Linked DNA regions of Homo sapiens. The protein of the gene in region 1 interacts with the protein of each later gene in a pairwise test. Each region holds a gene or a part of one and is shown in the gene's direction. Other genes may lie near its edges.

The links.
Region 2: the proteins of ZC2HC1C (region 1) and SORBS3 interact in binary tests that used the Homo sapiens proteins (3 or more experiments, as listed by UniProt).
Region 3: the proteins of ZC2HC1C (region 1) and UBASH3A interact in binary tests that used the Homo sapiens proteins (3 or more experiments, as listed by UniProt).
Region 4: the proteins of ZC2HC1C (region 1) and RABGEF1 interact in binary tests that used the Homo sapiens proteins (3 or more experiments, as listed by UniProt).

Annotation. Positions count from the first base shown.
Region 1 is NC_000014.9:75,065,015-75,072,640, forward strand, and holds the start of ZC2HC1C (zinc finger C2HC domain-containing protein 1C), read left to right. Parts: upstream 1-4,626; 5' UTR 4,627-4,735; exon of another isoform or gene 4,736-4,934; intron 4,935-5,540; 5' UTR 5,541-5,559; coding exon 5,560-6,897; intron 6,898-7,626. Other genes in the region: ACYP1 (acylphosphatase-1 isoform c precursor), read right to left, coding at 4,196-4,277.
Region 2 is NC_000008.11:22,561,920-22,568,942, forward strand, and holds part of SORBS3 (vinexin), read left to right. Parts: coding exon 1-12; intron 13-2,067; coding exon 2,068-2,158; intron 2,159-2,363; coding exon 2,364-2,450; intron 2,451-2,548; coding exon 2,549-2,602; intron 2,603-2,889; exon of another isoform or gene 2,890-2,954; intron 2,955-3,087; exon of another isoform or gene 3,088-3,154; intron 3,155-3,348; coding exon 3,349-3,435; intron 3,436-3,809; exon of another isoform or gene 3,810-3,906; coding exon 3,907-3,953; intron 3,954-4,069; exon of another isoform or gene 4,070-4,324; intron 4,325-4,425; coding exon 4,426-4,565; intron 4,566-4,741; coding exon 4,742-4,794; intron 4,795-4,902; coding exon 4,903-4,949; intron 4,950-5,141; coding exon 5,142-5,256; intron 5,257-7,023. UniProt on the Homo sapiens protein: Vinexin alpha isoform promotes up-regulation of actin stress fiber formation. Vinexin beta isoform plays a role in cell spreading and enhances the activation of JNK/SAPK in response to EGF stimulation by using its third SH3 domain.
Region 3 is NC_000021.9:42,441,901-42,448,206, forward strand, and holds the end of UBASH3A (ubiquitin-associated and SH3 domain-containing protein A), read left to right. Parts: intron 1-551; coding exon 552-696; intron 697-1,253; coding exon of another isoform or gene 1,254-1,302; exon of another isoform or gene 1,303-1,405; intron 1,406-1,411; coding exon 1,412-1,518; intron 1,519-2,633; coding exon 2,634-2,743; coding exon of another isoform or gene 2,744-2,933; intron 2,934-5,156; coding exon 5,157-5,294; 3' UTR 5,295-5,784; downstream 5,785-6,306. UniProt on the Homo sapiens protein: Interferes with CBL-mediated down-regulation and degradation of receptor-type tyrosine kinases. Promotes accumulation of activated target receptors, such as T-cell receptors, EGFR and PDGFRB, on the cell surface.
Region 4 is NC_000007.14:66,736,310-66,743,741, forward strand, and holds the start of RABGEF1 (rab5 GDP/GTP exchange factor), read left to right. Parts: upstream 1-4,423; 5' UTR 4,424-4,483; intron 4,484-7,432. UniProt on the Homo sapiens protein: Rab effector protein acting as linker between gamma-adaptin, RAB4A or RAB5A. Involved in endocytic membrane fusion and membrane trafficking of recycling endosomes. Stimulates nucleotide exchange on RAB5A. Can act as a ubiquitin ligase.

The DNA of each region.
Region 1 (7,626 bases):
AAATAACTCATGGCTCCAGAATTACAGTTGAGTCAGTCAATCTAAGCCAAATGGCCAAACTACACGAATTTATTTTGGGAACAGGGAATTGTCAAGGGGGATGTGGATGAAGATGGTTAAAATTAGAGTTGATGTGTAAACATTTGAATCCAGCTACCCTTATGATTCATGTGTGTGAAGGAAAACTGTGGTGTTTATTGATCCTCTGTGGATTGACTGTATACATTACACCTCTTCATAACGTAAAGACTCCTTATGTGAATATGCCAGGTTGGCAGACTTGACAATGAGATATGGGTTTGTGACAGTAGGCACGGAAATTCATCATTCTGCTAGTTCCCCGCTAGAGTGAGGATCCATATCCTAGAGAATCATACAACCTTAGTGCTGAGAGGTGGGGGGTTGGTGGTGAACAAGCTGGATTGAATGTTGTACTTGGCAATATTTGAAAATAACTCTAAATAGAGTATCTTGCTAATGGTATTTCTTTCTCTAAAATTCATTTAAAAAATAGTTTATAGAATTCAAAACTTACTGAGTGTCTAATACGAATGGGGCACTCTAGGATATACAAAGATGAATGATATAAAATCTTTGCCCTCAAAGAGTTTTTAATTTAGTGTAGGGGCACAAATGCATGCAAATAATGACAATAAAATATATGGCATGATAATTTAATTCCATGAAAATCCATTGAGAGCTCATCAGGAACCAGCCCTGTGCTATAACAAGGACAGAAAATATTACAAAGGAGCAAACAAATTAATTCTGATTGGGAAGACAGGGAAAGAGTTCTTGGAGGAAACAGCATTTAATCCAAGGTCACACAACCAGTAAGTGATGGAGCTGGGATTTGGTTCCAGAGTCAATCCCCATGAATGCTATGCTCTACCAGCTCCCAGTATGTGGAGCTTAGAGTAATGTAGTACCATGGAGATGAAGAAGTACAAGTAGCCAGTTGTGGCTAGACCAGGGGTTTGCTACCCTGCTTGTGCATCAGGATCTTTGGGGAAGCTTTAAAAATGTTAATCCTCAGGCCTCACCCCTAGATATTGCTTTCCAAGTAGTCTTAACACACAGTCAGGGATGAGACTCACTGGGTTGAACTCTGTGGCTTATTAAGGGGAGGCAAAACTGAAAAGGTAGGCTGGACCTAATCTGGGAGGTAGAGATGCCATGCTAAATTATGCATTTCAACTTTATTCTATAGGTAAAGAAGAAGCTACTGGGGAGGGAAATGGTAGGATCAGAAGCATTTAGTAATTAGCTTGATTTAATCACTGCACAATGCATACATTATCAAAACATCACTTTGTACACTGCAAATATAGATATAATTTTTGCTTGTCAATTATATTTTAATAAAGCTGGGGGGGGGTGGAGAAATATTTAGACTGATTATTTTGCCTGCAGCATGAAGGATGGGTTTGAAGAGCAGATATTGAAGGCAAGAGCAGAAGTTAGGAGGGCTATGCCATCCCAAGGAGAAGTGAGGAAAAACTCACCTGGGGCAGCAGAAATGTAAAGGAAGAGTCATATATGAGAGACATTGCAGAAGTAAACTCAATAGGCCAGGCGTGATGGCTCACGTTTGTAATCCCAGCACTTTGGGAGGCTAAGGCAGGTGGATCACCTGAGGTCAGGAGTTTGAGACTGATGAAACCCCATCTCTACTAAAAATACAGAAATTAGTTGGGCGTGGTGGTGCACACCTGTACTTCCAGCTACTAGGGAGGCCAAGGCAGGAGGATTGCTTGAACCTGAGAGGCAGAGGTTGCAGTGAGCTGAGATCGCGCCACTCCACCCCCATCTGGATGACAGAGCAAGACTGTCTCAAAGAAAAAAAGGAAGAAAACTCAATAAAACTTGTGATTAGTTAGAAGGAAGAGGCAACAAAGAGGGAAGCATGGAAGACTGATGCTGTGAGCATGCAAGGGCACACTGGAGAGGCAGATTTGAGAATGGGAGAGGATCAGAGTTTATGTTGTCTTACAGAATTTGAGGTTCCTAAGGAACAATCTTGTGGAGGTGTCAAATGGGCAGTCCTGAAATTTGAGTCTGTAACTAATGAGAAAGACTAAAGCTAAGCTGGCTGTCATTTAAACACAGGTGAAACCTGAAATTTCAGCATTTGGTTGAAATCATTAAAGAAGAGAATGTCTGGAACTACACACACACACACACACACACACACACACACACACACACACACATATATATGAAATAAGAGGGCTTCAGAAAACACTTAAATTTAGGGAGTAGATGGGGAAAAGATAAATGCCAGACTTGGAAGAAGATGGAGCAAGAACATGAAAGAAGAAACCAAGAGGGCACAGGAGAACTGAGAAGAGCATTCTAAGTGGGTGGATAATCAGTAATGTCACATGAGTAGGCTGAAAAAATGAAGCTTTTGTCTTTGGAAAGTCACTGGTAGCTTTGTAGTTAAATAAAGTGGAGAAAGTAGAAGACAGGCCACAATGAACTGGACAATGACGGGGAGATGAGGATATGTGGGCAGCAAATGTGGAGATTTCCATTAAGAAGTCTTGTGGAGAAGAGGAGAAATGAATGGGACTGTAATATGAAAGTTAGGTCAAGGGAAGTAAGGTTTGTTTTGCAGGGGAAAGTTGAGTATATGTTAAAACCAAAGAGACAGAGTTTATGGAGAGGTATAACTTGAAGTTAACAAGATGCAGACAGGGTGCCGTCTCTCACGTCTATAATCTCAGTACTTTGTGAGACTGAGGCGGGAGGATCTCTTTTGACTCCAGGGGTTTGAGACCAGCCTGGGTAACAAAGGGAGACCCTGTCTCTACAGAAAAAAAAAAAAGAAGTAAGCTGGGTGTGGGGGGCACACACCTGTAGTCCCAGCTACTCGGGAGGCTGAGGTGGGAGGATCACTTGAGCTGTGGAAGTTGAGGCTCCAGTGAGCAGTGATTGTGCCACTGCACTTCAGCCTGGGCAACAGAGTGAGGCCCTGTCTCAAAAACAAAGGCCAGGCCCGGTGGCTCATGCTTGTAATCCCAGCACTTTGGGAGGCTGAGACAGGCGGATCACCTGGGGTCAGGAGTTCAAGACCAGCCTGGCCAACATGGTGAAACTCTGTCTCTACTAAAAATACAAAAAATTAGCCAGGTGTAGTGGCAGACGCCTGTAATCTCAGCTACTCGGGAGGCTGAGGCAGGAGAATCACTTGAACCCAGGAGGCAGAGGTGGCAGTGAGCTAAGAGTGCGCCACTGCACTTCAGCCTGGGCAACAAAACAGGGCGAGATTCCGTCTCAAAAAACAAAAAACAAACAACTTTAAAAAACCCCAAAAACCAACAAAACAGAAAACAAAACAAAACAAAAATGCAGGGGTAAAGTGATGGAGTCAATTCCCGGAGGGTACTGAAAAGGACTAATTCAAGAGAACTCAATGGAACTCAATGGAAAGTCGCCCTTCTTTCTCATAGAGGAGAGGGAAGGAGAGAGAGAGAGGAGAGAGGGAGACAGACAGAGACAGAAACAGAGGAGAGAGGGAGAGGAGGAAGAAGAGAGAGAGACAGAGAGAGAGAGAAAGAGAAAAAGAAAGCCGGTAAATTCTGCTGAGGGAAGCTGTGGGAGTTGATAATCGGGACCCTGAGTGGAGTGGGAAACGTCTGGAGCTGCATATACGGAGAGGCGGTAGAGTCAACTAGGGATGAAAACGAGGAATTAAAAAAAAAAAAAAGACTGATCTGGAGGGTCCACCAAGGAATTTCCTTGTAACGGGTAACAGCTGTAATATGACATGTTGAAGTATTAACACTGATGACTGCTGTCTACATTATTTTCCATGTGCATGAATTGAGTAGTTACAGGGAAAAAGCGAACTGCCTGTTCCAAACGGCTTACACAGATGAACTGAAGCGAAGAAGAAAAATGAACTTTCTTTTGATGTCAACAAGATAGAGTATCATTTACTGTTGAAGCCAGGTTATACTGATTATTTTCGATCTGGTAGTTAACTTTATCATCATTACATTTGGCTGAGTCATTCCTGGGCCCTAAGTAGAGACGGCTAGAATTACCACGTGAGTAAAACATTATAATATCAAAATAATTAGATTGGCCACAAAAACTACCACGGAAAGATACTGCGTAGCAAAAACGTTGGCAGCAAGTTCCAAAGCCTTGGCGAGGACAAGCAAGGAGCGCGCGCGTGCAGCCATACCTGGGGCCCGCCCAGCGCAGCCGAGCGCGCGGAGAAAGGCCAGCAGCAGCCCCGCTCCCGCCAGGCGGGCGGACGCCGGCATCCTGCGGCGGAAGCACGCGGAGGCACAGCCAGGGCCTCCGCCCTTTGCCAGACAAGGGCACACCCCAAGGTCTGGGAGCGTCGTTCTCAGAAAAGTACAAGTTCTTCTTTGAAGGAGCTCCAGAAAAGCCTCTCCCGCCCCTCCCCGGCTCCCCAAGGGCAGGGCTGGACCGAGCTGCAGAGTTGGCCGGACACTGACTGGGTCAAGTGACCTTGGGCTGACCGCACCCCCACCCCCGGTCGCCCCGGGTCGCTGGTGCACTGCGCCTGCGCGCGTCTCCCCGAGGAGTTCGCGGCGAGGGGCGGAGCTTGGCGCGCCAGTGCCTCGGTTTCCAGGCACCGGGAATAACAGAAGCCAGCTGAGAGCGCCTGCGCGGCTGTCGGTTGATGGGGAGGTCAGGTCTGGGAAACTAGGCCCTGGGGTTTTCCCTGAGCAGGAGCGGTGCCCGAGGGCCTCAGGTACGCAGAAGGGCGGGGAGACATGGGATCAGCACCTCCACCTCCTAAGGGACCGAAGGGCAGGAGAGCGAGAGGACTTGTCCCCAGAGGTGGAGTCCGAAGTGGGGGCGCCCCAGTTGACCCTTCGGGACAAAACGTGACTTCAGCCTTAAGGATCTAAAACCGGCCGCGGTCAGGTCAGGTGGCCCTCAACGCTCAGGTTACAAAACTTTTACAGTCTGCGCCACGGGGACTCCTGGGATGAGGGTTTGACAGCCAGGCACCTGCTCCAGGCCCTAGCAGCTTTTGTGCTCTTTGGAATCAAGCACGGTTCCAGCAGGAGGGAAGCCCTGAGAGTTCTTTGTGCCAGTCACTACCTCTGGGCCACAGCTTTCTCACCTGTAAAATGGTGAGGCTGGACTCTGCGGGAACCCTTCAGTTTACAGGGGAAGAAACGGGGGCCAGCAAGGGAGAAGTCGCTTGTCCTGTTACAGGCCTAGAACCTGACTTTCTAGTCAGGTGCTCTTTCCACCTACTATAGAGTATACTGTGCGTGGCAGAGGCTGGTGCTGGAGGAAAGGAAAGCTAGGTGGCAGGAACACCTGTAGCACCTTCGTTTTTCTACCCTCAGGGCCTAACACAGTGTCTTGTGCATAATCACTCACCAAATGGTTTTTGAAGGGAAGCTTTGGCAGGTCCAGCAACACTGTCCCCAGAAAAGTTTAAGGGAATGTGGGCAGGGCAAATGTAGAAATAGTTTGCTTTAGCAGCCGAGAGTGAACCTCAGACAAACTCTTCCCGTGTATCTGGTTTAAATCTCCCGTAGGCGTCAGTCCAGGCCCTGAATGGCTGGTCTCCAGCGGTTGGCGTCACATCTGCCTGTGGGCGTTATGCTCCCACATAATACAACGGAAGCTCCAGGGCCCCACTCAGCCAAGCAAGACTCTTACGAACAAGGTGACTCTTCCCAGCAGTCCTTGAAGGGGCACCTGAGGAACAATTTCCAGAAGCAGCTTTTGAGCAACAAAGAGTTGATTCTGGATAAAGTCTATACTCACCCCAAATGGAACACCCAAACAAAAGCCCGGAGCTACTCCTATCCCCACTGTACTGGAATCAGCCAGCAAGATCCAGAAAGTGATTCCCAGGGCCAAGGAAATGGTTTGTTTTACTCGTCAGGCCCTCAATCCTGGTATCCCAAAGCCAATAACCAGGACTTTATCCCCTTTACAAAGAAACGAGTTGGAGTGGACCGGGCGTTCCCATTGAAACCCATGGTCCACAGGAAGTCGTGCAGTACAGGTGAGGCTGGCACTGATGGGGACCATAATGTCTACCCAAGGCCCCCTGAGCCGAGAGAGTTTTCATCTAGGAACTTTGGTGTGAGGAACCAGGGCAACTTTTCTGTGGTTGGTACTGTTCTTGCTGCCACGCAGGCGGAGAAGGCCGTGGCAAACTTTGACAGGACGGAGTGGGTGCAGATCCGAAGACTAGAAGCTGCAGGGGAGAGCTTAGAGGAGGAAATCCGAAGAAAGCAGATTCTCCTGAGGGGAAAGCTGAAGAAGACAGAGGAGGAACTCAGAAGGATCCAGACGCAAAAGGAACAGGCCAAGGAAAATGAAAACGGAGAGCTACAGAAAATTATACTCCCCAGGAGCAGAGTTAAAGGTAATAAAAGCAACACCATGTACAAACCTATCTTCTCCCCAGAATTTGAGTTTGAGGAAGAATTTAGTAGAGACAGGAGAGAGGATGAAACTTGGGGACGGTCTCAACAAAATTCAGGTCCATTCCAGTTCTCTGATTATAGAATCCAGAGGCTCAAAAGGGAAAGGCTGGTAGCAAGCAATAATAAAATTCGAGACCCAGTCTCAGAGCCATCGGTGGAGAAATTCTCCCCGCCTTCAGAAACACCAGTCGGTGCTTTGCAGGGATCCGCCAGAAATTCCAGCCTGTCCATGGCACCAGACTCCTCAGGTTCCAGCGGCTCCATTGAAGAGCCACAGCTGGGTGAGTGCAGCCACTGTGGGCGCAAATTCCTCTCGTTCAGGCTGGAGAGACACTCCAACATCTGCAGCAGGATGCGGGGTTCCAAGAGGAAAGTGTTTGACTCCTCCAGGGCCCGGGCTAAGGGCACAGAACTAGAGCAGTACTTGAACTGGAAGGGGCCAGCTTCAGCCAAGGTAACAAGAGCCTTATGGATGTGACTTGGTGTGGTGATCATTGTAGGGGTCTGTTTTGTCATCATCAGTTTTCTTTAGGGAAAATTCATGTGTCATGTAGGAAGAATTGACGTCTAGAATTAACATTTCTTGATTACTACTGTATGCCAGCATTGTGACGGGAGCTTTTCATGTGATCTCCACATTATCTCTCATTGTATCAGTTCAAAAATCAAGACTTGGACAGGCTAAGTAACTTGCTTGAGGTCACAAACAGCTTTAAGTGGCAGAGTCGGCATATAAATCTTGGTTGGAATGACTAAAAAATCTAGACATAGAATTTGTGTCCTTTGGATTATAAAAGTAATAAAAGTTTACTGTAGAAAATTTAAAAGACACAAAAAATCTAAAGAAAAAAATGCAGCCTTTTGTCACCTGGAGAGAACTCCTCACTCTTTGCAATGTATTCTGCCACTTCCCAAGACTAGGATCTGTGACCATTCCTTTAACTATTCACTCTTTTAAGGTTAGCTCAGTGTTAACATAGCTTCTTAGTAAATAGATGAAACACAATTAAGTTTGGAATTCTTTTTCTGCCCATTTAGAATGTAAACACCTTGAAGGTAAAAAGGACTTTCTTTCTGGTTATCTTACAAACCATGCCCTTGCCAATTATTTCTCACTTTAGAAAAACCAGGTTGGAAAAAGTAAGGGTTTCGTGACACTTACATGATAAATTTAGGTGAACTT
Region 2 (7,023 bases), on another chromosome or scaffold:
ATCTTCCAGTGGGTGAGCACAGTGGGGCGGGGCCGAGGGCTGCGGAGGGGCGCGGCCCGCGAGACACCATGGGACGGGCGCCCCCTCGTGACCACAGCCGGCACAGCCTCGGAGCCCAGCCAGGAGTGGGGTCTCACTTCCGTGTCCGTCTGGGCTCTGTCCCATCTCTGGGTCTCCACCACCCCCATAGACTCTCTTCCCTACAGGGTCAAGGGGGGAAGGGTAGGCAAGAGTGGACCTGGCACCCGCTCCTGGCCAGGAACGCCTGTGATGCGTTTGTGGTCAGCAGCAGGAACTCTTTGCCCCAAAGATCCCACCGGTCTTATGAGACCGGGAGTGGGGCGGCCAGGACAGCCGTGGACAGAACTGTTGAGGGGAACTTGGACCTGGCGCTGTCCACTTTGAAACCTGAGAGAAAACAAGGGATATGGAAGAACCCAAGTTCCAGCCTGATAGCACAGAGAGAGGAGCCCCTTGGAGGGATAAGGATGACATTCCTTTCCTCTGTGCAAACCACAGGCTCCGCCCGGCTGCTGGGGCCCTGGCGGGGTCAGCACCACCGTGGGAATCAGGATCTTTGCTCTCAGAGTTAAATCCTTGAGTTTCTTATTCCCTTGCAGGGAAGGACTCGTCTCATTAGCATGGCTGAAACTGGCCCGTAGCTCTGGGCATCACCGATAAGGTTCAGAGGCAAAGGGCTCAAGATTTGGACGCTGAGTTCTGGGTTTAAGCCTGTGCACTGCCACTAGCCATGTGACTGTGGGTACCTCACTCAGTCTGAGCCTCTGTGTCCCCATCTTTTAAGTGGTAATGCCCAGAGGGTTCAGTGTGATCATGTGTGTATCATGCATCATGTTTTGCACATAGCAAGCCTGCACAAACATTAGTAATATACAGGCTTAATTATGATTACAAGGCTGGGTGTGGTGGCTCACGCCTGTAATCCCAGCACTTTTGGAGGCTGAGGCGGGCGGATCACGAGGTCAGGAGATCGAGACCATCCTGGCTAACATGGTGAAACCCCGTCTCTACTAAAAACAATACAAAAAATTAGCCGGGCGCGGTGGCGGGTGCCTGTAGTCCCATCTACTCGGGAGGCTGAGGTAGGAGAATGGCATGAACCCAGGAGGCGGAGCTTGCAGTGAGCCGGGATTGCGCCACTGCACTCCAGCCTGGGCGACAGAGCGAGACTCCGTATCAAAAAAAAAAAAAATTATGATTACTGCTTCCTTAGGTTAGGAATGACATTCTCACAGTCACTTTTATTATTACCAAAATCAGAATGGAGTCATTATTACAGCCAACAAATCCCAACCCTTGGTCAGACGTTGTATTATTTGATAAGCCTGATGCAGTGGTTCCTCTCAGTGGAAACTTTCAAACAGAGGCTGGAACATTCCATGTAAGCCAGCCAGCAAGGGGCCCTGGAGGGGAGCTAAGGCAGATGTGTCCATGCTGTACTGCAGTGGCTGGGGTGGTCTCACAGACAGAGTCACTGAATCCAGCACCCTCATGGAACTAGGCCCAGGGAGCAGAAATAACTTGGCCAGAGCTGCAGGGCAGAGCTGCCTCTGGCTTTCCTTGCCCATGGGTGTACGATCACTCAGCCACAGCACCCAGAAAGACCAGCTTCTTCAAAGCTGCACAGACGCACATAGCCACAGTCATGGGGCCAGACCAAACACACATACAGGACACTTTAGCAAAAAGGCCCACAGGAGAGGGTCGGGCCACACCTGGAGCAAATATGTGTGTGAGGCCTTCTCCCGGGCACCTCATATATGTTCTCTCACCAAATCATTTCTATATTACAGGTTCTGAGCCTGAGGCTCTGAGGGATCAGTAACTTGTTCAAAGGTTACACATCCACTAAACAGTAGAGCTGGAATTTAAGCTTGGAGCTCACACACTTCCACAGTTTAATCTTGCTTCCAGAGTAACGGCAGGGCAGTCAGAGGCAGAGTAGACCCCACAGCAGGGACAAGGGCAGGGTGAGAGGGCTGTGTGCTGGCTTCTGCCTCAGTCTCCCTAAAAGGAAGCTGAAGAGATGTCCTTCCCTTTCTTTAGAAGAAGCTGGGACCACTCTGAAGAGTTACCTAGAAGCACCTTCAACTACAGACCTGGAGCATTCTCCACTGTGCTGCAGCCCTCAAATCAGGTAGCCCACCCAGCATAGTCCCTGGTCAGCCCCAGCTGTATGCCGTATGGCCAAGACCCTATGCCACGATGTCCTTTCAGCTTGAATCCCTTGGAGGACACCGTGGGCCCAGGGGAAGGGCAGGGGCCTGCAAGCCTGCATTTTGAGCCTGGCCAGTGTCCCAGTAGCCCTCTTCACAAGCTGACACCCACCCACCTCCACGCAGGTGCTCAGACGCCGGGAAAAAGTAGACAATGTCTGGACGGAAGAGTCCTGGAACCAGTTTCTGCAGGAACTAGAGACTGGGCAGAGGGTGAGTGCTGGCTGGCTCTCGGGGTGTGCACGCACCCTCAGCTGATACATTTTGGAAAGTGAGTTCACCTGCTCTGACACACCCTTTCTACCCTTCAGCCCAAGAAACCGCTGGTGGACGACCCTGGTGAGAAGCCCTCCCAGCCCATTGAGGTGAGTGCTGCAGGGTGCTGGGGACAGCAGCCTGATAAACCAGGGAGATTAGGGTTTTGGTGGCCCCAGTAACCATGGGCATAGGCCACGAACTAAGAGCTCTCTCTCCAGTCCCACATGGTTTATTTCTGTAATGCCAGCACTCAGGACAGTGGCTGGCATACAGGAGGCGCTCAGTAAACATGTGTTAAATAAATATGTGTTGGCCAAAGCAGGAGCAGAAAAGGGAGTGGTCAGTGCGCACTGGGATTATCAGGAAATATTCTTGGAGGTGGAGCTGGACCCTTGAGAAGCTCCGAGGGCCTGATTCGGCGAAGACCCATAGCAGAGGCTGGCAGGAAGCAGCGTGGGGGTGGGGGCTCCGGTCCCTGGGGTGGCGGGGGAACCTGGATGGGCACAGTGAAGCCAGGCCTTGGAGGGCGGGAGAAGATGGGAGAGGAAATGGGGAACCCCATTGGTGCTGTAACAGAGACACAACTTGGCAGAAACTGGCAGGACTGCGGAATCGCGGGATCAGGAAGCGCGTAGGCACTCCCGGGGCGTGCTGGGCAGGTGAGAGGCCGTGGCGGGGATGCCCTCTTGGCACCCTGGGCCACACCTCCTGGCAGGAGCCCGGCCCGTGCGCTGAGGCCTGCCCTTACGCCGGCCCGGTGCGCTGGCCTTGCTTTTCACAGTCGATCTTTGACCGCTGCCTCCCACCCCCACGGTGCGCTGCCCCTCACTGCCCAGCCTCTCCCCGCCCCCAGGTGCTGCTGGAGAGAGAGCTGGCCGAGCTGAGCGCCGAGCTGGACAAGGACCTGCGGGCAATTGAGACCCGACTGCCGTCCCCCAAGGTACCAGCCCCCAGGGTTCACCCGCGGGGCACGCCGGCGACCGCAGGGTCGGGGCGAGCCGGGAGCCTCGGCGGCTGGGCTGGGCGGAGGACGGGCAGCCGAGGTCCGGCCTCCAGCGGCGCGCACCGGCCTCGGGCCCTCCTGGGCGCTGGCGGGCTCGCTCCTCCATAAATAAAATACAGGGCGTCGACTTTCGCAAGTGACCCCGAGGAGCCTTTCTAAGCGGACTCCACGTCAGCCCGACGACCGGGCGCCCGCCCCGTCCGGCCCCCGGGCCCCAGCCTCGGGGACCCCCGCCCCTTCCCCTAGTTCCCGCCCCGCTCCCGGGATCGGCCGCGCGGGCGCCTCTAGGACCCCGCGTCCCGCCCGCTCTCCTCCCCTCCCGAGCCGCGAACTTTTCCGGAGGCGGCGGCCTCGGCTGCCGCTGGGTCCCGGGGTCGCGGGCCCTGATTGCGCCGTTTCCCCGCGCAGAGCTCGCCGGCGCCCCGACGGGCCCCGGAGCAGCGGCCCCCGGCCGGGTGAGTGGGAGACGCGGGAGGAGGAAGGGGGCTGTCCCAGGCCGGGCGGGAGGGAACGTGGCGCGGCCGGGCGGGGCGGACGGGGGCGATCGCGGGGCCCAGCCGGGGGAGGAAGGAACCGCAGAGCCGTGTCCGGGAGGGACCGCAGCGCCACTCTCTGCGGGGCGCCGTTCCCGCGCCACCGAGGGCAGCTAACTCCTAGCAGAGGACCGGGGTCGCGGCCGCCGGGGGCGCAGCGCGGTTAGGGCGGCCCCGCCACGGCCCAGGCACTCCCGCTGGGCCCTGCCGGGCCTCACCCTTCCCCGCGCAGCGACTCGGGAAGTAGGACATCCTGTGGAGAGCCCAGGACCCGGGAGACGCCCTGGGAGGAGGTGGCAGGGATGGGGGCGATGGGGGGTCAGAGCGGTCTAGGGGTGACCAGGGTGGGGTGCGGAGCCCCAGGCTGGAGGCTCAGTCTCTGTGCCCCGTGCAGCCCGGCCTCAGCCTGGAGCTCCAGCTACCCACATGCACCTTACCTGGGTTCCGCCCGGTCCCTGAGTCCCCACAAAATGGCTGATGGAGGAAGCCCCTTCCTAGGTCGGAGGGACTTTGTCTACCCTTCCTCAACCCGAGGTAAGGACCCAGCCCTGCTCTCTTTCTCACGGAGATGCCCACCCACCAGGCATGTTGGTGCCCCAGGGGTGGCAGGTCACAGAGCCCCTTGCTTCTGCCAGTGCCTGCCCTAGGTGGGGGTGCAACCCCATCCCCCAGGTATGGCCTCCCCAAGCTGAGGTTGTGCTTCTCCACAGACCCTAGTGCCTCTAACGGAGGGGGCAGCCCAGCCAGGAGGGAAGAGAAGAAGGTAAGGAGGGGACCAGGTGTGGGGGACCTGGAGTGGTCCCAAGGCTGCCATCCTGGATCTGCCACCCGCCCAACTGAGAGAGCCCACTCTGTCCTCTCCCCTGCCTAGAGAAAGGCCGCCAGGCTCAAGTTTGACTTCCAGGCGCAGTCCCCCAAGTAAGCGCCCTCCTCCCCCTCCCCTTCCACCCAAGGCAATCTCTGCCATCCCAGAGGGGGATGGGGAGGGGGACTGGGCTGCAGTGGGCATCCCCAAGGGGTGAGAGAACTGGGGTGTGTTGGGCAGGGTCTGAAGGGAAGGAGGCTTGGGAAGGCTTCAGCTTACCCTGCGGTCCTCGTCCCCACCTGCAGGGAGCTGACTCTGCAGAAGGGTGACATTGTCTACATCCACAAGGAGGTGGACAAGAACTGGCTGGAGGGAGAGCACCACGGCCGCCTGGGCATCTTCCCTGCTAATTATGTGGAGGTGAGCAGGAGAGACAAGAGCAAGTGGGGCTGGGCTGGGAGGGCGCAGGGGTTGGGAGAGACTTAGTGCAAACCTTGGGTTTCCTAAAGCAAAAAACTGTGAGGGGCTGGGGCGTGTCTCGGAACTGTCCTTGGCCCCCACAGGGCTTGGCCCAATGCTGTGCATGACCCCAGGAAATGTTTGCTAAATGAGGGTGGAGCCTAGCCCAGGGGAGGACCCAGCAGCCAGCTCCTCAACCATTCGTGTCCCAGACTTTCACCATTCAGATCCGTCTTTCTAAAGCTGTCTTTGGAAATCATCCTAATGGCAACTAGCAAGAGTGGGAAGTGTGCGACAGTTTATAAATCACGTATACACGCATAACCTCTTTCAGGTGTATTACCGCCCTGGTTCCTCTCACTGCCCAGAGAGTGATAGATTATCTCTGTTTTACAGATGGGGATGCCAAGGTTCAGTGAAAAGTTATTAAGTAAAAGATCCAGAATCTGAATCCAGGTCTTTTGATTCCAGAGACAGGTTCTGGGCTTGACAGATAAAGGGCGATAGGTTATCTTTGCTATTTGTGACTTTTAAAATATGTCAAGTTATCCAAATTACTGGCATAAAGGTGTTCATTATAGTCTCTTACTATCCTTTTCATGTCAGTAAAATATGTAGTGATGTCTTCTCTTTCTTTTTTTTTTTTTTGGAGAGACAGAGTCTTGCTCTGCTGTCCAGGCTGGAGTGCAGTGGCGGGATCTTGGTGCACTGCAACCTCCACCTCCCTGGTTCAAGGGATTCTCCTGCCCCAGCTTCCTAAGTAGCTGGGACTACAGGAATGCGCCACCACGCCCAGATAATTTTTGTAATTTTTTAGTAGAGATGAGGTTTCACTATACATTGGCCTGGCTGGTCTCGAACTCCTGACCTCAGGTGATCCACCCGCCTCAGCCTCCCAAAGTGCTTGGGTTACAAGCGTGAGCCACTGTGCCCGGCTGATATGTTCTCTTTCATTCCTGATGTTGGCAATTTGCGTCTTCTCTTATTCTGTCTAGAGCTTTATTAATTTACTTGATCTTTGGATTTTATTCATGTTTTTCTCTCGTTTTTGTTTTCGATTTCATTGAGTTCTGCTTCTTATTTGCTTATTGTTGCTTGCTTTTGGTTTAATTTGTTATTTTTCTAAGTTTCTTAGGATGAAAGTTTAGACTATTGATTTGAAACATTTTTCCCTAGAATGCTGCTTTAACTGCATCTCACACATTTTGATTTTTCATCAACTCTTGACTGTTTTCTCATCTCGTCTGTGACTTCCTCTTTGACCCATGGGTTGGGTTGTTGTTTAATTCAGGCTCTTGTTTTGATAGGTATCATTAGGCCTCCCTTGCTTACACGATGATCCACTTGGTCCTGAAATTTCACAAAGTATATACAGTATTTCACTCCGCCAGTCGTTTCTATCTTTGTGTGAAATGGTTTATTGGCTGCTTGATTTTTATGGGCAGAGTGAAGCAAAGAGAACGTGAGGATTCTGGGCTCCGGCTGGGGTAGATGGGGAGGAAGAACCGAGACGCTGGAACCCAGGGACACCCGGTTCTCAGCAGTGAGAAAAGGGTGAATGCTCAGTTTTGGAACAGTTCCCCAAGTTCCCCTTGCTGCTTGGAACGCCTCATTTTCTTCTGTGGTCCAACTTAAACTCTCTAATTGGACTGGCTTCCATCTTTTCTCTTGGAGTTCTTCACTTCAGTAATGCCCACTCCATATATCCCTATGGAAAATTCTTCTTCC
Region 3 (6,306 bases), on another chromosome or scaffold:
GCTCTTCCTTTAATCAAAATATAAAATGCCTGGGAAATGTGAGTTGCAGGGAGTCAGAATATTCCAGAAGATGGCTCCTTCCATTCTTCACCTCTTGCCCCGTCTGTGTAAGTGTTTATCAGGAAAGTGCCTCATGAGGCCAACATTCTTCATGATGGGTCACATCTTGTCCATTGATCATTGGATCTGCCATGTTGGAGGATGCAGCCGGTGGGCTGGTTTCACGGTGGAGCTGTGCTGGGTGATCAGGTGAGCCCCAGCCTAAGCCTGCTGCCTGGGACACTCACCAGCTCCTGGAAGACTCTGGCCCTTCCTGGCACACAGGGGGCCATCACTCCTCTGATACCTTCCCACTGCTCGTCAGTTTTGACTTCAGAAATAGCACAGCTATGCCTAATCACAGAACGGTATTTGCCAAGAAGAAAATCACACTGTTTAAAAGGCATGATTTAGACGTGTGTGTGACGGTCTGAGATCTAAAAGGAGACTTATTTATGCAAAGTCAGGGTGGATGTTGAGGATGATAAACACTTGTATTCTGTTGAATCCAGAACTCAAACTGGAGAAAAAAATCAAGATACGAGTGGAACCTGGAATCTTTGAATGGACAAAATGGGAAGCTGGCAAAACCACCCCAACCCTCATGAGCCTGGAAGAGCTGAAAGAGGCAAATTTCAACATTGACACTGATTACAGGTATGCTGTTCTAAAGTTCTCTGCCACTGGGGCTTTTCCAGTTATTGTTAAAGAAAAATTTCATGACACTGTTAAAATGGTAAGAAAGACTTTATTCAAGAGGGACCACTGCAGTGGGGTTTTGCAGCAGGGGAGAGAGGTGGGGCTCAACTCCTAATACAAGGAAAAGAGGGGAGTTATAGCCACAGAGCAGGGTGGGGGTCAGTGGATGGAAAATTCCTGAGAAGGTGGGTCATTCTTGCTAAACTGACCTAAATGGAGACTCTTGCTGAAGGCAGGCCAAGGTGATCAGACATCACCTGGGGGGTGGTAGAGGATAAGGAACTTGATCAGATGTCGAAGGTAGGAGGTTCTTGCTAAACTCACTCTGCAAGAACAGACACAGAAGCCCAAGGGTCAAGACCTCATTGAGAAGAAGGTTCAGAGGAGCTGGACTGGAGTTTAGTCAAGGAGAGAGTCTTTGTCATTCTCCACCCATGTCTGACTCTGCCATCACAGAGCCCTCCTGGTGTTGAGTAAGAATGTGTGCTGGAGATTGACTGTCAGTGCTTTGCCAGTTTTCAGCACAAAACTGGAGCCTGCCTGTTGACCATGAGCCTGCCTTGAGGCAGAGCCATCCTGGAAGAACGTTCTCCTTCCCCAGCTAACTGCAGCTGAGCCTTCCTAATCCCTACGAAAGTGCCAGGGCAGCAGCCTCTCCTTCTCATCCTTCCAGGCCCGCGTTTCCCCTGTCCGCCCTCATGCCGGCCGAGAGCTACCAGGAGTACATGGACAGGTGCACGGCGAGCATGGTGCAAATCGTCAACACCTGTCCACAGGACAGTAAGTGCCTCACCATCCTCAGTATGAACAGCCCCTGGGGCTTGGGGAATTATCTCTGAGATGGAAATTGGCCAATTTTCTGAACCTATGAATGCCCCTACTTCTCCTGCCTGCCCCCGCCCCCATTCTCCAGCAACAAAGTTTTCATCACTGCTGCTGCTGCTGCAGTAACCGGGTGCACAGACACACACTCCCCTGCCGCCCAGGCCCTGGGACCCCCCATCCTGGGACTGAGTGCTGATGGGAGGGGAATGATCTCTGAGATGGAAATTGGCCGATTTTCTGAACCTATGAATGCCCCCACTTCCCCTGCCCGCCCCCCACCATTCTCCAGCAACAAAGTTTTCATCACTGCTGCTGCTGGTGCAGTAACCGGGTGCACAGACACACACTCCCCTGCCGCCCAGGCCCTGGAACCCCCCATCCTGGGACTGAATGCTGATGGGACCCAGGCCAGCAGGGTCACACAATCCACCCATGTCCAAGGGATTTGAGTCAGCTTCCTGGGAAACAAAAGAGACAGAGAGAGAAAGAACAACCAACTTCCAGGTGGCGCCCCCTTCCCTGACCCATCACACGGGTCTCCTAACCCTCCCGTGTTGCTTTGTCCTGGATGAAGCATGCACAGAAGCGCTGACTTCCCACGCCTTCCCCTGAGCTGGCAGGGACAAGCGTGTCTCCTGAGGGAGACCCACTCGGCCTGTGGTCTCCAGGTGTTCTTATCTAAAGCAGGAGTCGTAGCAGGCTCGTGTGACAAAATAACCGGCTGACCTTTCTAAAGTGAATCAGGTCTGGCTTGGGCGTCAGCCACCGCTACATCCCAGTCTGTGGCTGACGGGGCCCAGGCAGCCAGCGACCACAGGGGGTGGCTCAGCTCACTTCCTAGGCCTCCCTGAGGCTGGTGGGCAGCTGCTGCGTGCAGAGGAATCCATGAGCGAGGGTGGGACGCAGGCATCACTGAGCGGTTACCAGCCACACTACTTCTAGCCCGGGGGTCTCGCCAGGCTTCGGGGCACTCTGAGATAGCTCTGCCCCCCACCACTTTGGGGACCCCAGTCTAATAAAAGGTGCTCTCTGGGGCTGCTTTGACCTGGAGGTGTTCTTGTTTTCCACAGCGGGTGTCATCCTAATTGTGAGTCACGGCTCCACTCTGGACTCCTGCACGCGGCCACTGCTCGGGCTGCCGCCCCGGGAATGTGGGGATTTTGCCCAACTCGTGAGAAAGGTACGCGCCCACTCTTGGCTCTTTGGGCCACAAAATCAAGCATCCCGAAGACACAGGTTTATCTCATCCACTTCTCGGAATGAAAACAAGTGTCCGGCTGACCCAGGGCCACCAGGATCCACGTGCCCCCGGAGACTGTGCCCACCGGCTCTTATGCGAAGGGTGACTTCGGGCTGGGGCTGGTGGATAGGTCAGTCAACCTCATCATCATTGGCCACTTGCCAACTTTTTACCAGTCAGCTCATGCCATGACCCCTTGCAGCTCTCGTAGAAAAACAGACGGTCCAGGAAGGAGTAAGCAGTTTAGATGAGGAGGGAAGAAACGACTGTGGGACTCGATTCTGGCCTCTTCTGGGGACCTGGGGCAGGGCGGCTGATGGATGAAAAGGAGCCCCTTGATCCTCTTGCCCTTGGAGTCACCCAGCATGGAAGAAGCTTGAGCTGGTTGTAGCTGCCAGAGTGCTCAGGCTCTGGCAAGGGCCTTGTGAATGACAAACAGAGGATAACGCACACGTGACATCTTGGACAACCTTGATTATCACTCAGCAAAGCCAGAGGGTGATGTCCAGTCCATGGGTGAATTGAGGCAGGCAAACTCAGGAGTGCAGATCCCACCCCAGTCCCAGCCCTTCCCTGCAGATCTACTCAAGGCTGGACTCACCACAGTCCTGACCTTTTTATGAAATTCATCAGTCCACTGGTCAGTGCCCAGGCAGCACGTGCAGCATAGACAATGCCTGTCATCGGAGGTGCTTGAGGCCCTGACCTGGTTTCTTCACATAGCACTGCCACAGGACCACACTGGCCACAGCTTGTTTGCCATAAGTTGTGGGCAGCAGTGGGGGTTGCTGAGTCCCCCCAAGAGGTCAGGGGCTTCAGAGGAGCCCAACTCCCGGGCCCAGCCCAGTGACACCAGCCAGGTGCCTGCAGGAGGGCTTAGCTCTCTAGCTACGCCTGCCTCAGCAGCCAGATGAGAGGTTACGCACATGAAGAGCATGCCTGCCGTGGGTCATTGTCACTCAGCAATTAGGCATCAGACACCCGAATCTCCCTTTCTTGCTCCATTTTCCTCTGCACCTGAGTAGAAACATGCTTCCCCTGCAAAATGTCTCCAGGGTGGTGTGTCCCAATTATGATCCAGACATTTCCGAGCGCCCTGGATTCTTGAGCCACCAGGTGAGCATTGTCCAAATAGGGCAGCTCAACCCCCCTGGGCCACACTGGTAGAGGTCTGCATGGATTTTCCTGGGGACTGTCCGGGGCAGCCCCGGCACCACCTGCTCCCAAAATGTTGCTCTTGCTTCTGCAAATGGGTCTCCCACACATGCGCTCTGATGCATTCCTCCTGTCCCTGCCCCGCTTCCCACAGTCCCATATACACATACCAAGCCTCCAGCCCCAGGCGCTCCTGGGGGCCCACGTAACCAAGGGTGGCAGCACTGCACACACCAGCTGCTGACAGTTCCTCAAACCCATGAGCCTTTGTGGCCAAAGCTCCACCCACTCCTTGGACCCTTCACCCCCTTCCATAGATGCCAATCTTGAACTTCCAAACTCCTGGACTTTCTTATGCTGGTCACGTGGCGTTCACCCTGCCCCTACCCCAAAATAAGCTGGACTTGCTCATGCATATCAGAAAATACAAAGGGGGGGCTCTACCAAATGATGGGCCCCCAAATCAGGGCAGCTGGAAAGGGAGCACTCAGGACCCTCCCCGACCAGCCCATCACCGCCCCTCGCCCACAGCCTCTGCAAGCGTGAGGAAAGAATCACCCTAGGGTCAACACCAGCCTCACTCAGACCCCCCTGCCAGTTGGCATTTTTGTAAATTTCATCTGCCTGAGGAATTTCTAGACATTAGAAAGAGGAAGGAAAGAAAGAAAAGAAAAGACAAAAACAAAAAAGGCTTCACCACAAAGCTCTGTTCTCACACATCCATTTCACAGATGAAGGGATGGAGGTCTAAAGGTTCACTTTGTGCTTTTCTTTTGGGTCTGAAAACTCAATGTCTGTGTCTTTTTGTGATGCTGAATATGAGAATATGAGTCACTCCTTAAGTGGTGGATGGCAATCTCCACCTCAGCCTGCAGACCTTTGTGGTGGGGGCTGTTCTACTCATTGTAGGATGTACCACCTTGTAGGACCTCTACCTGCTAGGTGTCGGCAGCACCTCCATCCTCAGTTGTGACAATCAGAAATGTCTCCGGAATTACCCAGTGTCCCCTGGCTAGGGGACATCCCCCACGGGGCACCGCCAGGGCAGATGTTGGTGCCATTCAATGGTGGCAGTGCCAGCCTGGGCAGTCGCAGACCCTCCAAAGTAGAGGTGTGCCTGACAGTTGGCTTTGGAGCTAGTCTGAAATTGATGGACTTGCTATAAGATATTAACAAGTGATTTAAAACTCTGTTCCAGATCCCTTCCCTGGGCATGTGCTTCTGTGAAGAAAATAAAGAGGAAGGAAAATGGGAGTTGGTGAACCCACCGGTGAAGACCCTGACCCACGGGGCGAACGCAGCATTTAACTGGAGGAACTGGATCTCAGGCAACTGAGAGCCACGGTGATGTTGTCATAACCTCAGAGTGGAGAGGCAGAAACCATGTGCAGAGGCTGGGAGATGCTGCTGTTTCCAGAGGCGTCTTAGTCTCACCCAATGTGATTTGTAGAAGCACGAGACGCACTTTTATATCCCGGAATATTTCCCTCCGGCTTTCGCCTTTGTAACTCCCATCTGTGGACCCATCGTCCACCAGCCCAGCTGCGGGGAGCACAGGGCAGGTGGCTGGGTGAGGATGCCGCCCTGCAGCATGTACACCGAGTGTCTGCAGCTGGGGACACAACTGCCCGGGACTCTAACTTCCAGGAATTAAAGACTCACCACACACGAAGGATCTAACCACTTCATTTTCCATGGTCTAATCATTAAATTCCCAATCGTTTTTTCTTTTTCTGGGTCCATCACTCTTTAGCCATATCCACATGGGCTAAAACAGGTGTAATAGTCAATAAAATGGTCCCAGAAAACCATCGACCAGGTCAAAACTGGGTTGCTGCTCCGTGCTGTCAACATTCATGTTACTATGTCTCTGTGGTTGCTGTAACCAATGACCACAAACCTGGGGGTCATGGAAAGAACACAAACTTTACACACACACACACACACACACACACACAGGCACATACACACATGCACATATGCATACAAAGACAGGCACACACGAGCATGCACACACACAAACACGTGCACATACACATGCGCACACACATGCACACGCACATGCACACACACGCAGGTACACAAGCATGCAAACACACATACACATACAAACGCGTGCATGCATACATGCACACATGAGCACACAAACACATGCACACACTTGCACACATGCACACAAAGGCATACACATGCAATGCACACACACAAACACACATGCACACACAGGCACACACACGCTCACATGCACACACACACACGCTGACTCTCCTACGGTTCTGGAGGTTGGCATTTTCTCAGCAGGCTATGTTTCTTCTGGAGCCTCCAGGGGAGGATCCTTGCCTTTTCTC
Region 4 (7,432 bases), on another chromosome or scaffold:
ACAGGAATGTTCCTTTAGCAAAAGTCCTTTCACATATGAGGTAGAGGTGGTGATGGATAGTCTCAGTGCAGTGAACAACCTATACCACTATATGGGGCCATTTAACTTGCCCTATAGACAGAAGAAGAAGGGGAGTGGTAAGAGCATTTTGGGCAAAGAATACAATGTGAGCAAGAGCACTAAGACAGTAAATTCAGGAAGTGAAAGGACACTGAAGGCTTGAGCTCTAGAGCAGTGATAATGAGGTTGAGGTGGAAAGACCTGATTTAAGAGCTATCAGGGTTAGAATGGGTAGGACTTGGCAGGTGATGAGGGTGAGGCAGGTGGATCACTTGAGGCCACGAGTTTGAGACCAGCTCACTACAACATGGTGAAACCCCATCTCTACTAAAAATACAAAAATTAGCCAGGTGTGGTGGCTTGCGCCTGTAATCCCAGCTACTCAGGAAGCTGAGGTAGGAGAATAGCTTGAACCCAGGAGGCAGAAGTTGCAGTGAGCCAAGTTTGCGCCACTGCACTCCAGCCAGGGCGACAGAGCGAGACTCCATCTCAAAAAACAAAACAAAACAAAGTTTTATTTTTATTTATCTAATTATACACACATGCACAGACACCTACGTATACAGACACACACACGTACACACACACGCACACAAATATATATATGTGCTGATGCACTGGGGCTTCCACTGCTCTTACTTGATGTGGGTGATATTATCATCATTATATATATATGAGGGGGGAGAGAGAGAGAGAGAGAGAGTGAGAGAGAGAGAGCGAGAGCGAGAGAGAGAGAGAGAGAGAGAGAGAGAATCTTGCTGTGTTGCCGAGACTGGTCTCAAGCTCCTGGCTTTAGGCAATCCTCCCACCTTGACCTCCCAAAATGCTGGTATTACAGTATTTATTTAATTTTTAGGTGTTTTTTTGTTTCTTGGGGGCTGTTTTTTTGGAGATAGGGTCTTGCTCTATTGCCCAGGGTGGAATGCAGTGGCTGTTCTTCACCAGGGCCATCATGGCTCACTACATCCTTAATCTCCTGGCTCAAGTAGTCTTCTCCCCTCAGCCTCCTGAATAGCTGGGACTACAGGCGTGTGCCACCACACCTGGCTATCCTACGCAATACGAGACTGGGTAGGGGGGGGCAGTCTAAAACAATATGGAGAGTACCTTTAGATCCGGATTTCGGGGCTCAGCCTTGCCATGGGAAGGAGGCATGGTGTGTAGCAGTGGTTACCAGACTTCTTTCAGTAGTTTAAAACAATTAAAAAAAAGATGAAAGACTGATATAGTGCTGTTCTCCTTTAATTTTGCCAAGGAAAGTCTTTTTTAAAAAACCTCTGTTGTTCCTGTCACTTAACACTAAAACGTGGAAAAACACATTCTCAACAACAGCAAAATAGCAGCCAGGCATGGTGGCACTTGCCTGTAGTCACAGCTACTTGTGAGCCTGAGGTGGGAGGATTGGTTGAGCCTAGGAGTTGGAGTCTGCAGTGAGCCATGATCCTACCACCGTGCCCCAGCCTGCTACTGCTAAACAGGTTAGCGGTGTCAGGAGGGTCTTCCCTCTTGCTGCTCGGTGCCTAGAACATTCTTGCCCAGATATTTGCATAGCAGCACAGCTGGCTCCCTCATCTTTTATTCAGGTCACCTCATGAGGCCGCTCCGGTCTATTTTAAAGCTGCAAGCTTCTTGGTTGTGTTTTTTGTTTTTTTTGTTTTTTTTTTTTTTTGAGACAGGGTCTTGCTCTGTCAACCAGGCTGGAGTGTAGTGGCATGATCACTGCTCACTGCAGCCTCAACCTGCCAGGCTCATGTGATCCTATCACCTCGGCCTCCAGAGTAGCTGGGATTACAGGTACAGGCCACCACCTGGCTAATTTTTGTATTTTTAGTAGAGGTGGCGTTTCACCATGTTGGCCAGGCTGGTCTCAAACTCCTGACCTCAGGTGATCAGCCTGCCTTGGCCTCCCAAAGTGCTGGGATTACAGGCGTGAGCCACCATGCCCGGCCAGTCCTCTCTAGCTTAACCTTCACAAAGAAACTTTGAAATGATATTCAGTTTTTGTTACTGCTTTCCTCAGGCCTTTTCTGTCTTTAGCACCAACCTCTTCTGCTCAGCCCATTGAACACTCATTCTGGGCCCAGGGGTCTAGGCTCATGCCTGTAATCCCAGCACTTTTGGAGGCCGGGGTGGGCAGATTGCTTGAGTCCAGGAGTTCGAGACCAGCCAGGGCGACATGGCAAAACCTTGTCTCTACAAAAAAACCCCAAAAACTAGCTGGGTGTGCTGGCACACACCTATCATCCCAGCTACTAGGGAGGTGGAGGCAGAAGGATCACTTGAGCCAGGGAGTTGGAGGCTGGAGTGCGCCGAGATTGCACCACTGTGCTCCAGCCTGGGCAACAGAGTGAGACTCTAACTCAAAAAAAAAAAAAAAAAAGAAACACTCATTCTGTTTCACAGAATGGTTTATAGAATGGTGTGTTGCCTGATTCTGTAATCACAAAAGTCAGTTAAGAGCTTTAAAGTAAATGTTATTCTGTCTTTTGGTAATAGCAATTACCACCATCCAAGGTACTACTGTAAATAATTATTGTTTATTCCCTCCTCCACCTCCTCAGCACAGGTACTTTGTGTTTTTTTGTTTTGTTTTGTTTTTTGAGGAGGAGTTTCACTCGTTGCCCAAGCTGGAGTGCAATGGCGCAATCTCAGCTCACTGCAACCTCCGCTTCCCGGGCTCAAGTGATTCTCCTGCCTCAGCCTCCCAAGTTGCTGGGATTGCAGGCATGTGCCACCATGCCTGGCTAATTTTGTATTTTTAGTAGAGACAGGGTTTCTCCATGTTGGTCAGGCTGGTCTTGAACTCCCGACCTCAGGTGATCTGCCCGCCTCGGCTTCCCAAAGTGCTAGGATTACAGGCGTGAGCCACTGCGCCTGGCCTTACTTTTGTTTTATACTCTGTTGTACCCTCAGCGTAGCACACATTAGGCACTTAGGAAGAATCTGAGAAACGAATCAGTTAATCCCTACTTTACCAATAATGAATAAAGACTGAGAAACTCGGGCCGGGCGCAGTAGCTCACACCTATAATCCTAGCACTTTGGGAAGCCAAGGTGGGCGGATCACTTGAGGTCAGGATTCAAAACCAGCCTGGCCAACATGGTGAAACCCTGTCTCGACTAAAAATACAAAAAAAAAAATATGAGCTGGGCGTGGTGGCGGGTGCCTGTAATTCCAGCTACTTGGGTGGCTGAGGTGGGAGAATCGCTTGAACCTAGGAGGCGGAGGTTGCAGTAAGCCGAGATCGCACGACTGAACTCCAGTGTGGGCGACAGAGTGAGAGTCTCAAAAAAAAAAAAAAAAAAAAAAAAAATAGACTGAAAAATTACGCAACCTGTCCAAGAACACTACAGCGACAATTAGCAAAGCTGGGATTTTAACCCAGGTCTATCTCACAGCCACAGCATAGTATTTTCTTTTTTTTCTTGCTGTGACTGCACGTTACGCCATACATGGCATTCAGGACGCAGAGGAATTAGTATTTACTGTTTTTAACATTCCTTACATGGGAATCACGTAAAGAATCAGGTAAACAGGATTCAATTTGTGACTCAACCATTAATACTTTGTGACACTGGCTAATTTATTTCACTTCTGGATGTCGGTTATGTTTTTTTTGAGACAGGATCTCGCTCTGCTGTCACCCGGCCTGGAGTTCAGTGGAGGGATCTCTGCACCGTCAACTTCCTGGGCTATCAAGCGATCCTCCCACCTCAGCCTCCCTGGTAGTTGGGACCACAGGTGCCCGCCATCATGTCCGGCTGATTTGTAAAATTTCTTTTGTAGAGATGGTGACCTTGCTCTGTGGCCCAGGCTGGTCTCGAACTCCTGGACTCAAGCGATCCTCCTGCCTGGGCCTCCTAAAGATTCAGCTGCTTTTGGATCAACCGATCGCCTTAAGACCTTTTAACTCGAACACCTGTCACATCCTAGGATCCGCGAAGGACTGAAACAGAGTTTCTGAAGCGTCCCTCGGCGCAGTAGCTCCGCTCCACCTCCCATTCGCGCTACCACCGCGGCCGCAGCCCCAGGAGTCGCCGCGGAGCCAGCGTCGCCCTCCAGCTGTTGCGCGTCGGAAGCCGGAAGCAGGGACTGAGCGACAGACTAGGAAACGCCGGTTTCTCCGGGGCTCCCCAGCGCCCCACCTTTACCCCGGAGGCCGCCCTCTTCCATTTGCTCTTGGGCGTCAGGGCGGTACCCCACTCCGCTCGACCCTTTGGATCCACTCGCACTTCCTCCCGTCCAGAGTCAAAGGCCCCGGAAGTGACGTTTACGCGCCGCGCGTAACGTGCGTTCGCTGGCGGTGCCGGGGGCGGGGCGAGCAGGAGGGTGGGTGTGAGGCGGGAGCTGGCCGCGGAGCCCAGACCTACCCGGGCGAAGCGGGCGAGCGGTGGTTTGGACGCCGGCGGAGACGCGGGCGAGGTACGGAGCGGACGGACTGGGGCTGAGAGCTGCTCGGCTCTCAGCTACAGGAGCGGGGCGGCGGGGCGTCTCGGGCTGGGGGTGGCAGGGCGGTCGGTCCGTGCCATCCGCGCGGCTGGGGCAGTTGCGCGTCGGTGCCTCCCGCTGTCCTTCGTCCCACATTCCGTCTCCGTCAGCGCCGCCTTCCCCGTTCCAGGCCGCCCTCGGCTCCCTTAATCCTCAGAGTGCGGCCTCTCCGTCCCAGACGCTAGTTGCCGGGATCTCCAGCGCCAGCCGAGCCCCGACGGCCTGACGCGGAGCATTTCCTGGCCGCCTCCCTCTCCGGCGGCTCCCCTCGCCCCGGCTCCCACCTTCCGTCCAGGCCGCTGGCTCCGAAGCAGCGTCTGTGGTCGCACGGGGCCCCTCCCACAACCTCCCCGGAAAGCGCTGGTATGGGACGCTCGGACCCAGACCACAGCCCCCGGCCGCGGCAGGGGCGCGGGGACTTGATCCCACGTCACCCTAGGGGGCAGAAGTGTCCCGGAGTTGGGAGGGGATTTGAAGCCTGTGGTCCTGACTTCCACCCCGTGGCTGAGGGCGAGGCTGCGGGGCCGGGGTTAGGAGCAGAAGTCCCTGCTTCCGAACCGTCTGGGAGGAGAGCCGAGGGATGCCCATCACGGCAGTTTAGGGAGAGAGAGGGAGGGACTCTGCCGCTTTGGAGGCTAGGTCATAGGCAGCTGGCGGTGTCTCAGCGCGGGTGACCAATCCTTGCGGTTGGGAAATGTGTCGTGGGCGCCCGTGGGCTCGTTTTGCCTTTGAGATTAGGTAGGAAATTTTCCCAGGACGAGTTTACCGGAGCACCTTGGGAGTTGGTTTTTGGCCTGGAGAGCTGCTTTCCCCCCTCTAAACCTAGAACTGCTTTGTTTTTATTTATTATTTTTTTCGACATGGGATCTCACAGTGTTGCCCAGGCAGGTGTGAAACTCCTGGCCTTAAGTGATCCTCCCGCCTCGGCCTCCCAGAGTGTTGGGATTATAGGCGTGAGCCATTGCGCGGCTTTAACTGCTGTTAAAGAGTGTGTTCCGGCCGGGTGCGGTGGCTCACGTCTGTAATCCCAGCATTTGGAAGGCCAAGGCAGGCGGATCATGACGTCAGGAGCTTGAGACCATCCTCCCTAACACGGTGAAACCCCGTCTCTACTACAAATAAAAAAAAAAAAGAAAAAGAAAATTTGCCGGGCATCGTGGCGGGCACCTGTAGTCCCAGCTACTCTGGAGGCTGAGGCAGGAGAATGGCATGAACCCGGGAGGCGGAGGTTGCAGTGAGCCGAAATCGTGCCACTGCACTCCAGCCTGGGCGACAGAGCTAGACTCTATCTCAAAAAAAAAACTAAGAGTCTGTTCCTTAAAATTGTTGTACCAAGAAACTTGCCAGAGATGCAAGAAAATGTGATTATATTGTTAATATTTAATGATAAATAACATTTTGCTTTTAAGAGTCACTGATTCATATCCGCAGGATTAAGAAATGTTCAGGATTTGAATTTTTAATGACCTTCCAAGCAGTCATGTTTCTGCTCTCTAGAAGTTAGCCAGTTGAGGAGAAGGGACAGTCAAGATACTTTCAAAACAGTGTGGTAAGGAATGTGAGCTAAGATGGAGCACCGAGGAAGGAGCCGGGCATTTAGGCCATGCTGTTGGGTGTGGAGCCTGGAAGGGATCAGGGAATACTTTCTGCATGTGTCTTGAAGAATGACTAACATTCAGACTAACAGGGTGGAGTGAGGGAGAGGGGGGAATCAAAGGAGAGGAGGCCAGTAACTACAAGGAGGTGCCTATTAATTTATTTATTGAGAGAGAGGGTCTCACTTTGTCACCCAGGCTGGAGTACAGTGACACGATCACGAGTCACTGAAGTCTCAACTGCCTGTGCTGAAGTGATCCTCCCACCTCAGCCTCCCGAGTAGCTAAGACTGCAGATGCGTGCCACCACACCCAGCTGATTTTTAAATATTTTGTAAAGATGTTGTCTTGCTGTGTTGCCCTGGCTGATCTCAAACTCCTGCACTCAAGCAATCTTCCTGCCTCAAGCGTCCCAAGTGCTGAAATTACAGGCATCAGCTACCGAGCCTGGAGGGTCGTTACTAAAGTGAAAAAGTGCAGGACAGAGATGTAGGAGCTCAGGCTTCCTCTGATGGTGACAGAACCAGGGGAAGTTTTTTAGCTGGGTCCTTGTGTGGTTAAAATGGGTCTCTCTGGCCAGGCGCGGTGGCTCACGCCTGTAATCCCAGCACTTTGGGAGGCCGAGGCGGGCGGATCACGAGGTCAGGAGTTTGAGACCAGCCTGAGCAACATGGTGAAACCCCATCTCTACTAAAAACACTAAAATTAGCTTGGTGTGATGGCGCCTGCCGTAATGCTAGCTACTCAGGAGGCTGAGGTAGGAGAATTGCTTGAACCTAGCAATTCTAGGAGGTTGTGGTGAGCCAAGATTGTACCAATGCACTCCAGCCTGGGCGACAGAGCGAGACCTCGTCTCAAAAAAAAGAAAAAAATTTAAAAAAAAAAAAAAGGCTCTCTCTCTCTCCCTGTCTCCCAGGCTGGAATGCAGTGGCAGGAACACAGCTCACTGTAGCCTCCACCACCCATGCTTAAGCTATCCTCTTGTCTCAGCCTCCCAAGTAACTGGGACCACAGGCCTGCCACCTACTAATTTAGCTTGCCTGGCTAAATTTTTTTTTCTTTTTTTGATACGGAATCTGGCTCTGTCGCCCAGGCTGGAGTGCAGTGGCGCGATCTCGGCTCACTGCAAGCTCCCCCTCCTGGGTTCACGCCATTCTCCTGCCTCAGCCTCCTGAATAGCTGGGACTACAGATGCCCGCCACCATGCCTGGCTAATTTTTTCTATTTTTAGTAGAGATGTGGTTTCACTGTGTCAGCCAGGATGGTCTCAATCTCCTGACCTCGTGAT